Regions from separate parts of the Homo sapiens genome. Here region 2 is linked to region 1. A link means that fine-mapping ties the variant in region 1 to the expression of a gene that starts in the linked region. Tissue or cell type: whole blood. Region 1 holds a variant in brackets; the other region holds the start of a gene. All regions are shown on one strand. Distances are from middle to middle.

The links. PIP is the estimated chance that this variant, and not a neighbour inherited with it, causes the effect.
Region 2: AKR7A3 starts here. The variant in region 1 is fine-mapped to the expression of AKR7A3 in whole blood (TOPMed, PIP above 0.99).

Annotation. Positions count from the first base shown.
Region 1 is chr1:19,392,038-19,400,297 of GRCh38, reverse strand. The region is part of intron 2 of CAPZB (capping actin protein of muscle Z-line subunit beta); the gene reads left to right. Among named protein-coding and RNA genes, the nearest start is that of SLC66A1, 84 kb to the right of the region's middle. RefSeq lists an enhancer at 7,124-7,263. The variant T/C (reference allele first, on the strand shown) is at 3,771.
Region 2 is chr1:19,285,527-19,293,526 of GRCh38, reverse strand. It overlaps AKR7A3 (aldo-keto reductase family 7 member A3), which reads left to right and starts at 4,757. Exons shown (of 7, transcript NM_012067.3): 1 at 4,757-5,031; 2 at 7,155-7,342; 3 at 7,535-7,639. The coding sequence starts at 4,818. LOC124903867 (a long non-coding RNA gene) reads right to left here and starts at 5,467. Exons shown (of 3, transcript XR_007065521.1): 1 at 5,167-5,467. It overlaps LOC100506730 (a long non-coding RNA gene), which reads left to right. Exons shown (of 1, transcript NR_037847.1): 1 at 1-280. RefSeq lists enhancers at 3,880-4,701, 4,702-5,524.

The DNA.
Region 1 (8,260 bases):
CTCCATCATCACCCCCTTTAACTGCCAGTGACCACATGCCAGATTCATGAAGGGCACACTGAAATTGACGAAGACCTGTGCCATGGGTAGCGGGAAAAACTGGGCTCCCTTTAGTAAGCAGGATGGTGTTGAGGTCTCGGAGGCAGGCAAGGGGTGGGCTCGGAATCTCTCCTGGAAGAGAAAAGAGAAGGGAATTTGGATTCTGTATACAAATATAGAAATTCCCTAAGAGTTTAAATTTGAACATGGCATTCAGGGGAGAAGATTATGGGTTCCAAGCCTTTTCCTTCTTCCCCTTCTTGTGAATAACTCACTCAGCTGCTTGCATCTGTGTCCTAAGGCTGTGAACCGAAGAGCTGGGCAGTCCACAGTTGGTTTGAGCCTCAGAGTACCTTGCTTAGTAAAGGTTTGTTTTAGGAGGGATGACACAAACTTTTGAGTAACTCTCAAGTCTTGAACTATGAAACTTCGTAGGATGTCAACACTAAAATGAACCTTACCGATTATCTCATCTAGTGGTTTTCAAACATTTGGAAAATTGGTACAGCCCTTTTTTTAAGCAAAATCTTAGAACTTGAATAAACCAGGTAGAAGGTGGTAGGCCCAGACTTCCTCTCCCACTCTTGACACCCTGAGCTCCTCCCTCTGTACTCACAGCCCTCAAAGTGCTCCTCTCTCAGAGAACCATCCATTGCAGAGACCAGGGAGCTGTGGCCCATGCCCCATGTAGCACCGTTTCATGGCAGAACCAGCTCTGACTTCCAGGCCAGTGGCAAGTCCCTGCAGTACCTTGGTTTATTTTGATGTAGGAAAAGCTCTGGGTAGTAAGAGTGAAGAGTCAAACAGCTACGACTGAGAGTGAGGAGAAAGACAACACTGCCCATGGTTCCTGACACCCAGGGTCACTTTTTACCAACCTAACTCTGGGTCACATGACGTACTCGTATTCTGAAACTGTTGGTTTCCTGGATGTCTACCTGTGATGTCTTGGATCCATGTGGTTCTCTCTGCCTAAAATATCCTCTCTTGATTCACCTTCTTAACAACAGCTTTCTGGAGATATAATTCACATAACATAACATTTACACTTTTAAAGTGTACGGTCCAATGGTTTTTAGCACACGCAAGAGTTGTGCAGCTAGCTGGGCATGGTGGCTCATGCCTGTAATCCCAGCACTTCGGGAGGGCAAGACAGGCGGATCACTTGAGTCCAGGAGTTCAAGACCAGCCTGACCAACATGGTGAAACCCTGTCTCTACTAAAAAATAAAAAAATTAGCCAAGCATGGTGGCAAGCACCTGTAGTCCCAGCTACTCGGGAGGCTGAGGCAGGAGACTTGCTTGAACCTGGGAGGCGGAGGTTGCGGTACTCGAGATCGCTCCATTGCACTGCAGCCTGGGTGACAAAAAAAAAAAAAAAGAGTTGTGCAGCTATCAGCATTCGGCATCCCACGCTGTCTGCCTTTGACAGACAGAGATGCTCTCTGTCTGCACCTTAGTCCTTGGGCTGCTTTGCGACCTGCCCTAACTGCCAGCCCTGCCTCACTTTCTGTAACTCAGCTCAGATGTGGCCCCCTGGAGATGTCCCCTCCAGTCTCCCCTGCTTGGTCGTTTCTATGGGTGACTCAGTGAAATTACAGCAAAACCTGATGAGACATCCCTCCAGTGGAAGGAATCCAGTGTGAAACATTGTGGCCAGACAGCCTGGGTGACTTTTGTGCTGAGAACAGCGAAGCAACCCGACTTGTTGAGTCTGCCTTAGCACCCGCTCCCCCACTCAGACACGTAAACATGGCACAAACACTCCCACTTGAAGGGAAACAGAAGTATTACTGGAATCATGGTAGGTCATGGAGGTTTAGAAGCTTGTGATCGTGAGGATTTTTGGAGAATCTGTTGGAGGAAGCCAGACCTCCGCCCTCTGACTCAGTGGCTCCGTGCTCTGAGCTGGTCAGCCTCTGCTGTGGCTTCAAAGGTCATTCGCCTCCCAAGGGGCTATCAGGACCCCTGGGGCGAGGAGTACAGGGCTCAGCACCTCGCCTGGCTCATCGGGAGACTGAGCAGGTGTGGCAGGATGACTGTGGCTCACCTCCGTGTGTGGGCCCTGGAGGTCACGGAGTTCCTCATCATGGAGCAGATCCTCTCGGACTTGAGGGTGTTTCACAGGCTTTCAGATTCTAAAGTATCCCCTGCGTTGCCATTGCCCATGGTTGCCTGGCCGTGTGACTCCTTATTGTCACTTTCTGCCTCAGGTGTCTCGTTTCTGCTAAACAGAACATGTGAGATTTCCCTGGCATCCCCACCAGTGTCGACGTGCAGATGAATATCAACCCACAGACCCCGATGCTGTTGGTCTGTCCCTCTGGGCGATCATGAGCCCCCCAGATCAGTGGTAAAGAACAGCCCTTCCTATGCTGCCCCATCTGGCTCCTCCCGCATTCGGGTGGCGCGCGCCCTCAGGCTTCCCCCTGCATTCTTATTTTGTAACTTCCATGGTAGCCCATTCATAGTTTTCACCCTAAACTCTAGGTTTAGACGTGGACATTTGGCACACATGTGGTTTATAAAGCCTGAGGCCAGGCCTAACCCTTAGTATCCAGTGATGATGAAATGGATGCATTTCCCATTTCCCTCCCTGAAATTAGGTCTTGATGCTGTACCCTAGTAGGTGGCTGGTATGAGAGGTTCCGTTCGCGTTGACCTTGTGTGAAAAACCAATCTTGCCAAGTACTTCTCTCTGCCACCATCCAGCTGGTGACTCTTTCAGCTGAATTATTTTGCCTGCTAGGTTACTCACCAGGTGTCATTCTAGAGTCCGCACGGCCTTAGGGTGGGATCGCATGGCTTTCATTGAATTACCTGCTGTGTGACCATAGCCAAGTTGCTTAACCTACCTGTGCCTCTTTTTTTCACCTGTAAACAGTAATGTGGGATAATAACACCCCTGCCTTCTGCAGGGTTGCTGTGATGATAAAATGAGGATGTGTGTTACATGCCTTTTAAATGGTAAGACCTAAACATCTTTGCTGTTATTCCAATCATAACTTTGATAGTTCAGTAAGTCCTCACTTAATGTTGTCCATAGGTTCTTGGGAATTATGACCTACAGCAGGCCCTTGAATAATGTTTCATTAAAATGTTGACGAGAACAAAAATTTGGTTTCACTATGTATCTTTTCACTTAAACGAGAGGACAGAGATCCTCTGTGAAATTACAGTGTCTTTGGAGAAAAATCAACTTATATATGAGTTATGTTTGTGTATTTTTACCTGGTCTTTTCCCAAAAAGATTTCAGGTGACAGAAGAATACAAGCCAATACGATAATCTTTTTTTTTTTAATTTTTTGAGACAGAGTCCTCTCTGTCACCCAGGCTGGAGTGTAGTGGCGCCATCTCGGCTCACTGCACCCTCCGCCTCCCAGGTTCAAGCGATTCTCCTCCCTTAGTCTCCTGAGTAGCTGGGATTACAGGTGCTCGCCACAGTGCCTAATTTCTTTTTTTTTTTTTTTTTGTATTTTTATTAGAGGTGGGGTTTCACCGTGTTGGTCAGGCTGGTCTCGAACTCCTGGCCTCAAGTGATCCTCCTGCCTCGGCCTCCCAAAGTGCTGGGATTACAGGCATGAGCCACTGCGTCTGGCCAATAATCCTTAATAAAAATGTGGACTGAGAAAGCTGGACCGAGGACTGAGGACCGTCCGGGAAGAGAACAGCAGCTACCCCGTGCTTGCCTTCATGCTGGGAAGGCTGCGGGTCTGGCTTTAGGAGGAGCC[T/C]GTGTAGGGTACGAGGGGCAGCGGCAGCTCCACAGCAGGCGGCAGCCCACGCCCAGTGGGTGCACACCTTCATCCAACTCAGGGCTGGCAGTCAGGAAGATGAAATGCCATCCACGTCAAGTTTCGGTCTGTCTCCCACTCACCGAAGAATAGTCCCTCCTTTAAGGGAGGTGCTGAAGAGTGCTGAGAACTTGCTTCCCACCAAGGCAGGCTTGGGCTTCAAAAGATCAGAACCTGACCCAAGTGGCCCTAGTTTTCCACCATCCCACACCATCCCACCAACGCTTCAGAAGTCCTGCCAGCATCAAGCCGGGCATGAGGCCGTCCAGACAGCTCATCACTGCCCTGGGGAGACACATGCATGTCACAAACCTGTGAGGCTCAAGACCGCATCCTGCACAGGGTGCAGGAGTAGAGGCGGGGCAACGGCCTCTGCCGTCGCGGCTTTGGGAGGTTGCAGTGGAAGAGGCAGGCGTGGCCGAATCAGACCCTGAAGGATGACTTAGGTGGAACACGGGGAAGAAAGGTGGTCTGGATAGACATGCAGGATGCTGGGTGTGGGGCAAGCCTGAGTCAGGGGAGCCTCCCTGTGCTCCTTAGCCTGAGGCCATCGCCTGGCTGTAGGCGGCAGCTTCTCCTGCCGGCTGGCTGGCCGGCTGCAGGCAGTTCTCAGCACTAAGTCCAAGATGACTTCCATTCTGGTGACTCGAAGGTGGTTTTGTATGTTGTGCTTCATCTCTCAGGGACGAGTCCTTAATTAAAAGCAGCCGGGAGCTTAGAGAGACCCTGGCTTCTCTGCACACAGGTGATGGGTTGTGTGCCTGGCCAGGAAATGGTTCATTTAATTAGGCTCCGAGGGCCTGGTTCATCCCCTTCAGGGAAGCTTAAGGTTACATGTGGACAACAGGAGCCTTGTGTGTGCCTGTGGTTGACCCAAATGTAGTGATTTTCATTTCTCCTTTCCATTTGTCTTCTTTGTTCTGCCCCTTCCTGACCCTTTCTTTAGGAAACCGTTGTGGCCCCTTCCAGGCTGTGAGATTCCAGAGGGCAAAGCTTTGGGGTTTGGAGTATGAATGGCTGAAAGCGAGCCCAGGAGGCCTGCTTTTGTTTATTATTTATCTCTGGATGGTCAGGGCACCTGTCTGAGAAAAGAAAGAGATGGAGGGGACTTACCGTTTCCTGAAAAAGCTCTTTGTTGTTAATGGCATGTGGAAGACTCATTTCTAAGTAGAATAAATCATTTGTTGGTCAAAAATGGCTTCCTAATGTTGGCCCTCTCGGCCAGCCTCAGTTGTATTAAACCCTAGGTAACCAACCACAACCCCCGCCTTGAGTCATGTGCCTCATATGAGCAGGTACAGATGCTGCTGCACCCTCGAAGGGGTTACGTGACGAAAAATCCACTGGAAGTAGAAAATGCTTTTAATCCCCCTAACCTGCCAAGCGTCGTGGCTTAGGCTGGCTGACCCTAAATGTGCTCAGAACACACCTACAGTTTGGTGAAAGCACCTGGCGCGCGGTGGCTGTAGAGTGTCATCGCTCACCTTTTTGATCACAGGGCTTGTGGGGAGCTGTGGGAGCTGCTGTCTCCCTGCGTCATGAGGGAGGATCAGACCGTGCATCGCTAGCCCAGGAAAAGATCAAAATTCAAACTACAGCTTCTACTGAATACTATCGCAGAATCAAAAAAATCTTAAGTCAGAAACATCTGTGTTACTCCGCCAGATGTGCTGTATGTACCATTATCTCAAATCTATGTTGCGTGGCTTGCTCACTTTTTTTGTTTGTTTGTTTTGTTTTGTTTTGTATTTTGAGACAGAGTCTTGCTCTGTCACCCAGGCTGAAGTGCTGTGGCGCGATCTCTGCTCACTGCAACCTCCGCCTCCTGGATTCAAGCAATTCTGCCTCAGCCTCCCAAGTAGCTGATTACAGGCCTGCGCCACCACGCCCGGCTAATTTTTGTATTTTTAGTAGAAACAGCGTTTCACTATGTTGGCCAGGTTGGTCTCAAACTCCTGACCTCAGGTGATCCGCCCACCTCAGCCTCCCAGAGTGCTGGGATTACAGGCGTGAGCCACTGTGCCCAGCCATCGCTTGCGTTTTAATGTTGCCAAAATTGGGAAATTGCTTCTTACACTTAATGTGTACACTTAGCGATGTTATAATTACTGGTGCATCTTACAACTTACAGCCTTCACAGGAAGAAAGCAGGCTGTGCTTGCACTTAAAGAATATGGCCCTTGGCCAGGCGCGGTGGCTCATGCCTGTAATCCCAGCACTTTGAGAGGGCAAGGAGGACGGATCACCTGAGACCAACCTGGCCAACATGGTGAAACCCCATCTCTATAAACATATAAAAATTAGCTGGGCATGGTGGTGCACACTTATAATCCCAGCTACTCATGAGGCTGAGGCAGGAGAATCACTTGAACCTGGGAGGCAGAGGTTGCAGTGAGCCGAGATCGCGCCACTGCACTCCAGCCTGGGCAACAGAGCGAGACTTCGTCTCAAAAACAAAACAAAACAAAAAAATATGGCCCTCAGCGCCAAGTGACTTCTTAAAGAGGAGAGAGGCTGGACCTGGAAGTGTCCTCTTGTGTGTGGCCCTGGCAGGCGGGGGGCCAGTTTCTCACTAGGCTCTGCTGGGCAGTAGGCACTGAGCCCCTGCCCACACGCCAGGAGTCCCCGAGGCCCAGAGTGGAAAGGTCACATGTCGGATCTGCTGTGGGCTGTGGGCTGTGGTGAGGGGCAGGAGAGCCCAGCCCTGCAGCCCTTCCCAGGCGACCCCAGGCACCTTGGGTCTGCCGTGACCGGGCACTTGGGGGAAAAAGCTTTGGTCCTCACAGTCCCATAATTCCCCCAATTCTATTCTTTTTTCCTCCCCTGTCCCCTGAGCCTGACTGGGGATGGGGGCAGCTCGCCTTGTTGACCCGGTGGGGCCTGGTCTTTGGAAGAGCTGGGTCAGTCTCAAATTGAGATTCTCATTCCTCTCCACCTCGTGTTGGCTGGGACAGCCGGGGCCAGCAGCTTCCCCGTGCCTGGGTTTTCTCATCCACAGGTTGGGGGGTGCCCTCAATCCTGCCTCCGAATAGGTGCGCCATACCCTAGCTCACGTGGCTATTATCCTAAGGAGATATGTTTTGATGCTTCCTGGGGTGAGCGGGAGCCCCTGGGGTCCCCCTCTGGTTACTCAGGGGTACCACTTGCCTGAGTCTCTGGGAGCACAGCTGCTTCCCGTCCAAAAACAAGCTTGGCCACCCGGGTGTGACTTTCAGGCCCGGCGCGAAGCTGCCGCCTGTGCAGGTGCCTTCTCATTGCAGAGGTGGCCATGCTCAGAGAGCCATTAGGCAAAATGGGTCGGAAGCTCCAGCCTCGGCTACATGAAGCTGTGCTTCCGTGGCTCAGTGTTCCTAATGACAAACTGGGGTCCCTGTAACGAAGCTGCCCTTGGGGAGTTGGGGAGCAGGCTTGTGTTTTCTCTACACTAAGTAGTGGTGGTGGGGTGGGGATTCCTGCATCTCTCATAGGCTGGTGGAGGCCATGTGTCCATCTGGACAGACCGGTGAAGGGAGCCCCACTGAAGGGATCCTGACCTGGAGGCCATCTCCCTAGGCGAGGACAGCCAGCTTGCAGGCCCTCACTGGGAGGCCTTTCCCAGCATGTGCTCTTGTACCTTTTTGAATTCTGACCTATGTGAATGTATTACCTATTATACATAAGTAAACACTTTTTTTCTTGAGTCAGGTTCTTACTCTGTCACCCAGGCTGGAGTACTGTGGTGCAAACACGGCTCACTGCAGCCTCGACTTCCCGGGTTCAAACAATCCTCCCACCCTAGCCTCCTGAGTAGCTGGGACTACAGGAACATGCCACCATGCCTGGCTATTTTTATTATTATTATTTTAGTAGGGACGGAGTCTTGCCCTGTTGCCCAGGCTGGTCTCGAACTCTTGATCTCAAGCGAGCCACCGCAGCTGGCCTTTTTTTTTTTTTTTTTTTAATTCTTAAGAAAAGCAGTGTGCCAGGGCCTGCCCTCACACTTGGAGTGACCCAGGAGGTGCTGCGTGCTGCCTCACTGGGTCTCACTCCAGCCGCGCTTTGCTCCTCTCTGTTCTTGCACTTGCCTCAGTGGCCTCTGCAGCAGAGCCTCATGCCAGCTCTTCCCTCTTCTTGGGATGCCCCTGTTATTTTTCCCTGCAGTCTTGGAGGGCCGGCTCCTTGGTCATTATTCACATGTCATCTCTGTGCCACCTCCTAGACTGCTGACTTGCCCCCACAGCAACCCCCTTCTGTCGTCTCCTGCAGGTTCGCTTCCTGCCTCTTTTTTTTTTTTTTTTTTTACCTTGAGACAGAGTCTCTCTGTGTCGCACAGGCTACAGTGCAGTGACACAGTCTTGGCTCACGGCAACCTCTATCTCCCAGATTCAAGTGATTCTCCTGCTTCGGCCTCCTGAGTAGCTGGGATTATAGGCATGCACCACCACACCTGG
Region 2 (8,000 bases), 110 kb after region 1:
TGGCTGAGAGGTTTATTTTCCTTTCATGAATAGGTATTAAATTTTGTCAAATGCTTTTTCTGCATCTATTGAGATGGTGATATGGGTTTTGTCTTATAGCCTGTTAGTATAGTAAATTATATTGATTGATTTTAAAATATTAAGCCAACCTTGTATTCCTGGGATGAAACTAACTTGGTCATGGTGCATTATTGTTTGTATTTACTACTGTATTCATTTTGCTAAATTTTAAAAGGATTTTTGAAAAAAATAAAGAGGATTTTGTGTCTAGATCCATGAAGGATATGTGTGTAGTTTCTTTTCTTGTAACATCTTTGTGTCATTTGGTATCTGGTAATGCTAGCTTCAAGATGAGTTGGTAAGTGACCTCTCCTCTTCTATATACTAGAAACATTTGTCCAGAATTGATGTTGTTTCTTCCTTAAGTGTCCAATGAAGCCATGTAGACCTGGAGTTTTCTTTGTGGAAATATTTTTTTTTATCAAGAATTCAATATCTGGGCTAGACGAGATGGCTCACACTTGTAATTCCAGCACTTTGGGAGGGTGAGGCAGGAAGAATACTTGAACCCAGGAGTTTGAAACCAGCCTGAGCAATATAGCGAGACCCTGTCTCTACAAAAATATTTTTACAAAATTAGCCAGGTGTATTGAGGTGCACCTGTAGTCCCAGCTACTTGGGAGGCTTGGGCAGAAGGATCGCTTGAGCCCAGGACGTTGAGGCTGCAGTGAGCTATGATTGCACCATTGAACTCAGAAGACAAAGCAAGACCCTGTCTTAAGAAAAAAAAAAAATTCAGGTTGTTGTTTTTTTTATTTTTTTAGACGGGGCCTGGCTCTGTCGCCCAGGCTGGAGTGCAGTGGTATGATCTTGGCTCACTGGAACCTCTGCCTCCTGGGTTCAAACGTTTCTCCTTGCCTCAGCCTTCCAAGTAACTGATTATAGGCACACACCACCACACCCAGCTAATTTTTGGATTTTTAGTGGAGATGGGGTCTCAGCATGTTGACCAGGCTGGTCTCCAATTCCTGACCTCAAGTGATCTGCCTGCCTCGGCCTCCCAAAGTGCTGGGATTACAGGCATGAGCCACTGCGCCCGGCTGTCTCATTTTTCCTTACTCATTTTCCAAACACATTCCTTACTCATTTTCCAAACATAAACTTTGGTAGTTTGTGTTTTTCAAGGAAATTGTCCATTTCATCTAACTTACTAAATGTATTCACATAAAGGTTTTAATAATCTACCCTATTGTCATTTAAAATGTCATTTAATGTCATTTAATGACATTTAAATATCACTTAAAATGATAAATTTGTATAATTTGTAGTGGTGTCTCTTCTGCTCTTTCTGGTGTGGTTAATCTGTGTATTCTCTCTTTTATTCCTGATCAGTCTAGCCAGAGGTTTATCAACTTTAGCGATGTGTTTATAGAACTACTTCTGGTTTTACTGACTTTTGCTGATGTTTTTGTTTTATATTTCATTTATTTTGGCTTTTTTTTTTCTTTGAGATGGAGTCTTGCTCTGTTTCCCAGGCTGGCGTGCAGAGGAGTGATCTTGGCTCACTGCAGCTTCTGCCTCCCGGGTTCAAACGATTCTCCCACATCAGCCTATTTTGGCTATTATTTTTATTATTTCCTTTCTTCTGCTAATTTTGGTTTTACTTGACTCTTCCTTTTGTGGTTTCTTAAAGTACAAGCCTCGGCCGGTGCAGTGGCTCACACCTGTAATCCCAGCACTTTGGGAGGCTGAGGCGAGAGGATCCCTTGAAGCCAGGAGTTCAAGACCAGCCTGGCAAACATGGTGAGACCCCTTCTCTACTAAAAATACAAAAATTAGCCGGGCATGGTGGTGCATGCCTGTAATTCCAACTACTCAGGAAACTGGGACATGAGAATTGATTGAACCCAGGAGGCTGAGGTTGCAGGGAGCTGAGATTGCACCACTGCTCTCCAGCCTGTGTGACAGAGTGAGACTGTGTCTCAAAAAAAAAAAAAAAAAAAAGTAAATGCTTACATTATTGATCTGAAATATTTCTTCTTTTGTAATATGTCAAAGTGGTGCTATAAATTTCCCTCATAGCACTACTGTGGCTGCATCTCAGAAAATTTGATATGTCCTGTTTTTACTTTCATTCAGTTCAAAATATGATCTAATTTTCCTTGTGATTACATATTTGACCCATGGGTTATTTAATTTCTAAATATGTGGGGATTTTCCAGATATCATTCCATTATTATTTTCTATTTTTCCTTTTTCTTCTATTTGTTAACTTATTTACTTATTTTCAGTTCCCTCTCAGGCTCTAAATTCTGTTATTCTTTTCTTTTCTTTTCTTTTTTTCTTTCTTTCTTTTTTTTTTTTTTTTGAGGTAGAGTCTTTCTCTGTCACCCAGGCTGGAGTGCAGTGGTGCGATCTTGGCTCACTGCAACCTCCGCCTCCCAGGTTTAAGCAATTCTCCTGCCTCAGCCTCCTGAGTAGCTGGGATTACAGGCACACACCACAATGCTCGGCTAATTTTTTTGTATTTTTAGTAGAGATGGGGTTTCACCATATTGGACAGGCTGGTCTTGAACTTCTGACCTCAAGTGATCTGCCCACCTTGGCCTCCCAAAGTGCTGGGATTAAAGGTGTGAGCCACCGCACCCAGCCTGTGTTATTATTTTCTAGTTTAATTCCATCGTGTTCAGAGATGTACTTTGTATGATTGGAATCCTTTCAAATTTATTTATTTATTTATTTATTTATTTTTAATATGGAGTCTCACTCTGTTGCCCAAGCTAGAGTGCAATGGCCTGATCTCGGCTTACTGCACTCTCCACCAACCAGGTTTAAGTGATTCTCCTGCCTCAGCCTCCTGAGTAGCTGAGATTACAGGGGCACGCCACCACGCCTAGCTAATTTTTGTATTTTTAGTGGAGACGGGGTTTCACTGTGTTGGCCAGGCTGGTCTCAAACTCCTGACCTCAGTTAATCCACATGCCTTGGCCTCCCAAAGTGCTGGGATTACAGGCGTGAACCACCGCTCCCAGCCTCTTTTACATTTATTAAGACTTGTTTTATGCCTCCAAATATGGTATATCTTGGTGGATGGGCACTTGAAAAGAATGCATATCCTGCTGTTGTTGGATATTCTATTCATGTTGTTTATGTGGAATTGGTTCATAGCATTGAGTCTTGTATACCTTTACGGAGTTTCCGTAAATTATGACTGATAACTGTTCTACAACTATTGAGAATGGTGTGTTGAAATCTCCAATTATAATTTTGTATTTATCTACTTGTTCTTTAGTTCCATTATTGTTTTTCATGTATTTTGATGATCTATGCTTAGGTGCATATATATTTAGAATTATATCTTCTTTATTAATTGACCTCTTTGTCATTATGGTATGTCCCTCTTTGTCTTTGGTAGTTGTTGTTGTTGTTGCTGTTTTGAGACAGGGTCTCAATCTGCAGCTTCGACCTCCCAGGCGTAGATGATTCTCCCACCTCTGCCTCCCAAGTAACTGGGACCACAGGTGCATGCTACCACAATTTGATAATTTTTAAAATTTTGTTGTAGCGATAAGATCTCCCTGTGTTGCCCAGGCTAGTCTCAAACTCCTGGACTTAAGCAATCCTCCCTTCTCAGGCTCCCAAAGTGCTAACATTACAGGTGTGGGCTAGTATGTCACCCACTGTGTGGGCCAGTATTCTTTGTTTTGCAATCTACTTTGTCTGATATTCACTTAGCCATTCCAACTTCTTAAAATTTAGTTTTGTCAGTGTATGTCTTTTCCCATCTTTTTGCTCTTAAACTATCTCTGCTTTTATATTTGAATAGCTTTCTGGTATTTACCATATAGTTTGGTTTTGCTTTTTTATCCATTCTAACAATCACTGCCTTTTACTTGTGAGCATTTACATCATTTATATTTATGTAATTATTGATATGATTGGGTTTAAATCAATTTTGCTATTGGTTTTTCATTTGTTCCATCTGTCTATTGGTCTTTTTTTTTCTTTTGTATTTGGAGACAGATTTGCCCTCTGTCACCCAGGGTGGAGTGCAGTAGAGCTATCACAGCTCACTGCCGCTGGGCACTGGTCCATTTTTCTATCTTTTTTTTTTTCTTTTGAGACAGGGCCTCCCTATGTTGCCCAGGCTGGGTTCAAACTCCTGGGCTCAAGTGATCCTCCTGCCTTGATCTCTCAAAGTGTTGGCATTACAGGCGTTAAGTCACCAGAGCCAGTCAGTTTTTTTTCACTTAGGTACAGAATTCAATGCCAACAGTTCTTTTCTTTCAACACTTTAACCATGTCACTCCATGGGGACGCTGTCTTGAGCCTTTGGTAAGCCTCATTCTCCAGGACCACACGGCAGGCGCGACAGCCCTAGGTCCACCCCACCCCGTAAGCGCTCCCTCCGGGAGGAGACAGAAACCCAGGACAGCTCCGGGGCAAGGCCGAGGAAGGAGGGACGACGGGGCAGGGAGGCCCGAAGAGTCCCCGCCTTTTGGGATAGTCGCCACCCTTGGACCCCCTCACCCTTGGGGACGTTGAGGAGTGTTAAAATCTCCAAGACGCGAGTCACCGGTACGAAGCCACAGCCATTTCGCTGCTTGCTCGGTGCAAGTGCAGAAGGTCCTAGTAGCCGAGCGTGGAGTCGAGCTCGTGGGCGGCGTCGGGCACCTTCGGCCGCGCCCTCAGCTGCACCCGCCGGTGGGCGGGGCCCGAGCCCGTCTCTAAAGCCACGAGGCCGCCCGCTCCGAGCCTGGTGCTTCCGACCGCTGCGCGCGGCTCCTGGGCTGTCACAGTCTCCCGTTGCCGCCGTCATGTCCCGGCAGCTGTCGCGGGCCCGGCCAGCCACGGTGCTGGGCGCCATGGAGATGGGGCGCCGCATGGACGCGCCCACCAGCGCCGCAGTCACGCGCGCCTTCCTGGAGCGCGGCCACACCGAGATAGACACGGCCTTCGTGTACAGCGAGGGCCAGTCCGAGACCATCCTTGGCGGCCTGGGGCTCCGGCTGGGCGGCAGCGACTGCAGAGGTAACAGTGGCCCCTGATCCTCCCCCTGCACGGTGCAGAGCTGAGCCTGTCCACAGCCGTGTACCGCCCCGCTCTCCCTGGCCCCGGGGCAGCACCCAAAGTTTTGTCCCCCCCACCGCCCCCACCCCTGTTCACCTCGCAGCCTTGGGAACACCAGGCTCCTTAGGCACGTCTAGCTCCGGACAACTTTTCTCTCGTCTTCTCTTCTGTTCGTCTCTCTTCTCTTCCGGGAGGTAGCCAGCACCCTCACTGACGCCTGGATGACTTGGTCTTGCCTGGAATGACTTGGCTAGCCCCTCTCTGGAGCACAAAAAACACTGGGATCTGGCATTGTGCAGCTCCTGTCCCCACCTGTGCCCTCCAGGTGCCCTTGACGGGCCTGATCTGCAGAAATTCTGTTCTTACCGCCTGGCACTCCCTGGCACAGTCCAAAATCAGAGTTTGGACCCAGCACACTATCTGCTTCCTCCTTTGCACATGCCAGCCTGCTCGGGGCCCCGGACTTTGCTCTGAGTACCTTGTGGTACTCACAAGGGCACCTCACAAGGGTGGCAGTGCCCGGAAGCCTTGGCAGCTCCCTCAGGGGGATGAGGGATTGGGGTGGTACAGAGTCTCACTGCCCTCTCTGTGGGAGGCTCTGTCGGAGGCTATTGGAGAGAAATGGACACTAACCCACTCCAGGAAGCTCCAGTTCTAGAGATGGCTGGGGAGCCCAGAGTGACCCCTTCCTGGGAGGGACCCCGTGAAGAAAGAATGGATAGGAGTTTGCCAGGAAGAGTACAAGGGGCAAGGGCGTCAGGGCAGTGGGCATGGGTGTGGAAAGGCAAATGTGTTTTGGCAATGCCGCGGGTGCTGGAGGAGGCAGGTGTGGCCGGAGGGGAGGATGTGTGTATAGGGGCAGGAGGAGCCGCCCTCAGTCTGATGCCATTTGCAGTGCTTAGGCCGATGCCTGGCAGGCACATAGTGAGGGCTGGGAAATGTTAGCTGTTTGTTTGTTCTTAGTATTAGCACCATTTGCCTCCTTCCACTGAGTGTCTGAGTGGAGTCTTATTTCTCCTCTGATTCACCACATGGTAGATCCAGAACGAACCTGGCCTGTGCGTGCATCCCAGTGCCACGCTCTTTCTAGATCACCCGGCTGCCACTCAGTGAGAGCTCTAACCATATTTCTGATTTTTTTTTTTTTTTTGAGACAGGGTCTTGCTTTTTTGCCCAGGCTGGAGTGGAGTGGTGCGATAGGGCTCATTGCAGCTTTGACCTCTCAGGGCTCAAGCCATCCTCCCACCTCAGTCTCCTGAGTAGCTGGGACTACTACAGTAGCACCACACCCGGCTAATTTTTTGTATTATTCATTGAAACTGGAGTCTCACTTTGTTGCCCAGGCTGGTCTTAAACCCCTGAGCTCAAGTGATCCTCCTGCTCTGGCCTCCCAAAGTGCTGAGATTACAGGTGTGAGCCACCACAGATCTGTACCCTCTGCCTGGCCCTTATTTCTGATTTTTTTTTCTTTCCTTTTTTAATCCTTCTTTGTCTTCTGTCTGAGTCCAAGGTTGGCTGGCGAAAGTCCTCAGATCTGATCTGAAGTTAAATTCAATTGAGAAGCAGAGGGGTGGTGGTGGAATGGAAAAATTCCATATGAATAGTTCCTCAAACCTGCTCTTTGCTAGGCCTCAAGGGCTCCAGTGACTGCCCTCCTGCCAGCCTAGGTGACTTTCTAAGTGTGAAAAGTGGGAAGAGGACTCTCCACTCACCTGTTAGTCCAGTTCACTAGGAACTAAGATTCTTTTTTTTTGTTGTTTGTTTTGTTTGTTTGTTTGTTTTTTGAGAAGTCTCACTCTGTGAGACATTGTGCTGTGGCACAATCTCGGCTCACTGCAACCTCCGCCTCCCGGGTTCAAGCAATTCTCCTGCCTCAGACTCCGGACTAGCTGGGGACTACAGGCGGGCTCCACTATGCCCAGCTAATTTTTGTGTTTTTATTAGAGATGGGGTTTCACCATGTTGGTCCAGCTGGTCTTGAACTCCTGACCTTCTGATTTGCCTGCCTCAGTCTCCCAAAGTGCTGGGATTACAGGCATGAGCCACGGCGCCTGGCCCTGAATTTCATTTCTCTTTCCTCTCAGTGAAAATTGATACCAAGGCCATTCCACTGTTTGGGAACTCCCTGAAGCCTGACAGTCTCCGGTTCCAGCTGGAGACGTCACTGAAGCGGCTGCAGTGTCCCCGAGTGGACCTCTTCTACCTGCATATGCCAGACCACAGCACCCCGGTGGAAGAGACACTGCGTGCCTGCCACCAGCTGCACCAGGAGGTGAGGGGACCCCTGAGCTCTGGGAGGTGGTCCACTGCTGCTCTCCTTATCCTGATCCTAATGGTGAGAGCAGAGGCACCAGGGCTGTTCCAGGGTGGAGCAGGGAACAGCCCAACTCCCAGGGGCCCCACCCTGGCCTCCCTTTCCTGGTCTGGGCTGCACTATGTTCTGACTGGAGCCTCACCTGAGCAGGGCAAGTTCGTGGAGCTTGGCCTCTCCAACTATGCAGCCTGGGAAGTGGCCGAGATCTGTACCCTCTGCAAGAGCAACGGCTGGATCCTGCCCACTGTGTACCAGGTGAGAGCCAGGGCTGCAGAGGCCAAGGTCTCCAGAACTCCTGCTCATCCTGGGCTGTCTTTGCCCCTCTGACTGCCCCCTGTGCCCTCTGCATAGCAGCCACTCCCCTGCTGAAAGCCTGCAGATGGCTCCCAGGTACCCTCAGGATGCCATTCAAGCTCCTCAGGCTGGCCACTGGGCATCTGCTTCCTTCCTGCCTATCTGTGCACCTTGGACCCTTCCTTCCCTACCTTCCCCTGCACTCAGCCTGGAACAAGCCCTTCCCCCACCACCGCCCCTTCCGTGAGAGAATGGTTCAGGTCTCACATACGTGTCTCTTCCTCTGGAAGCCTTTCTAGATGGGCCCAGAAGACCCTGAGAC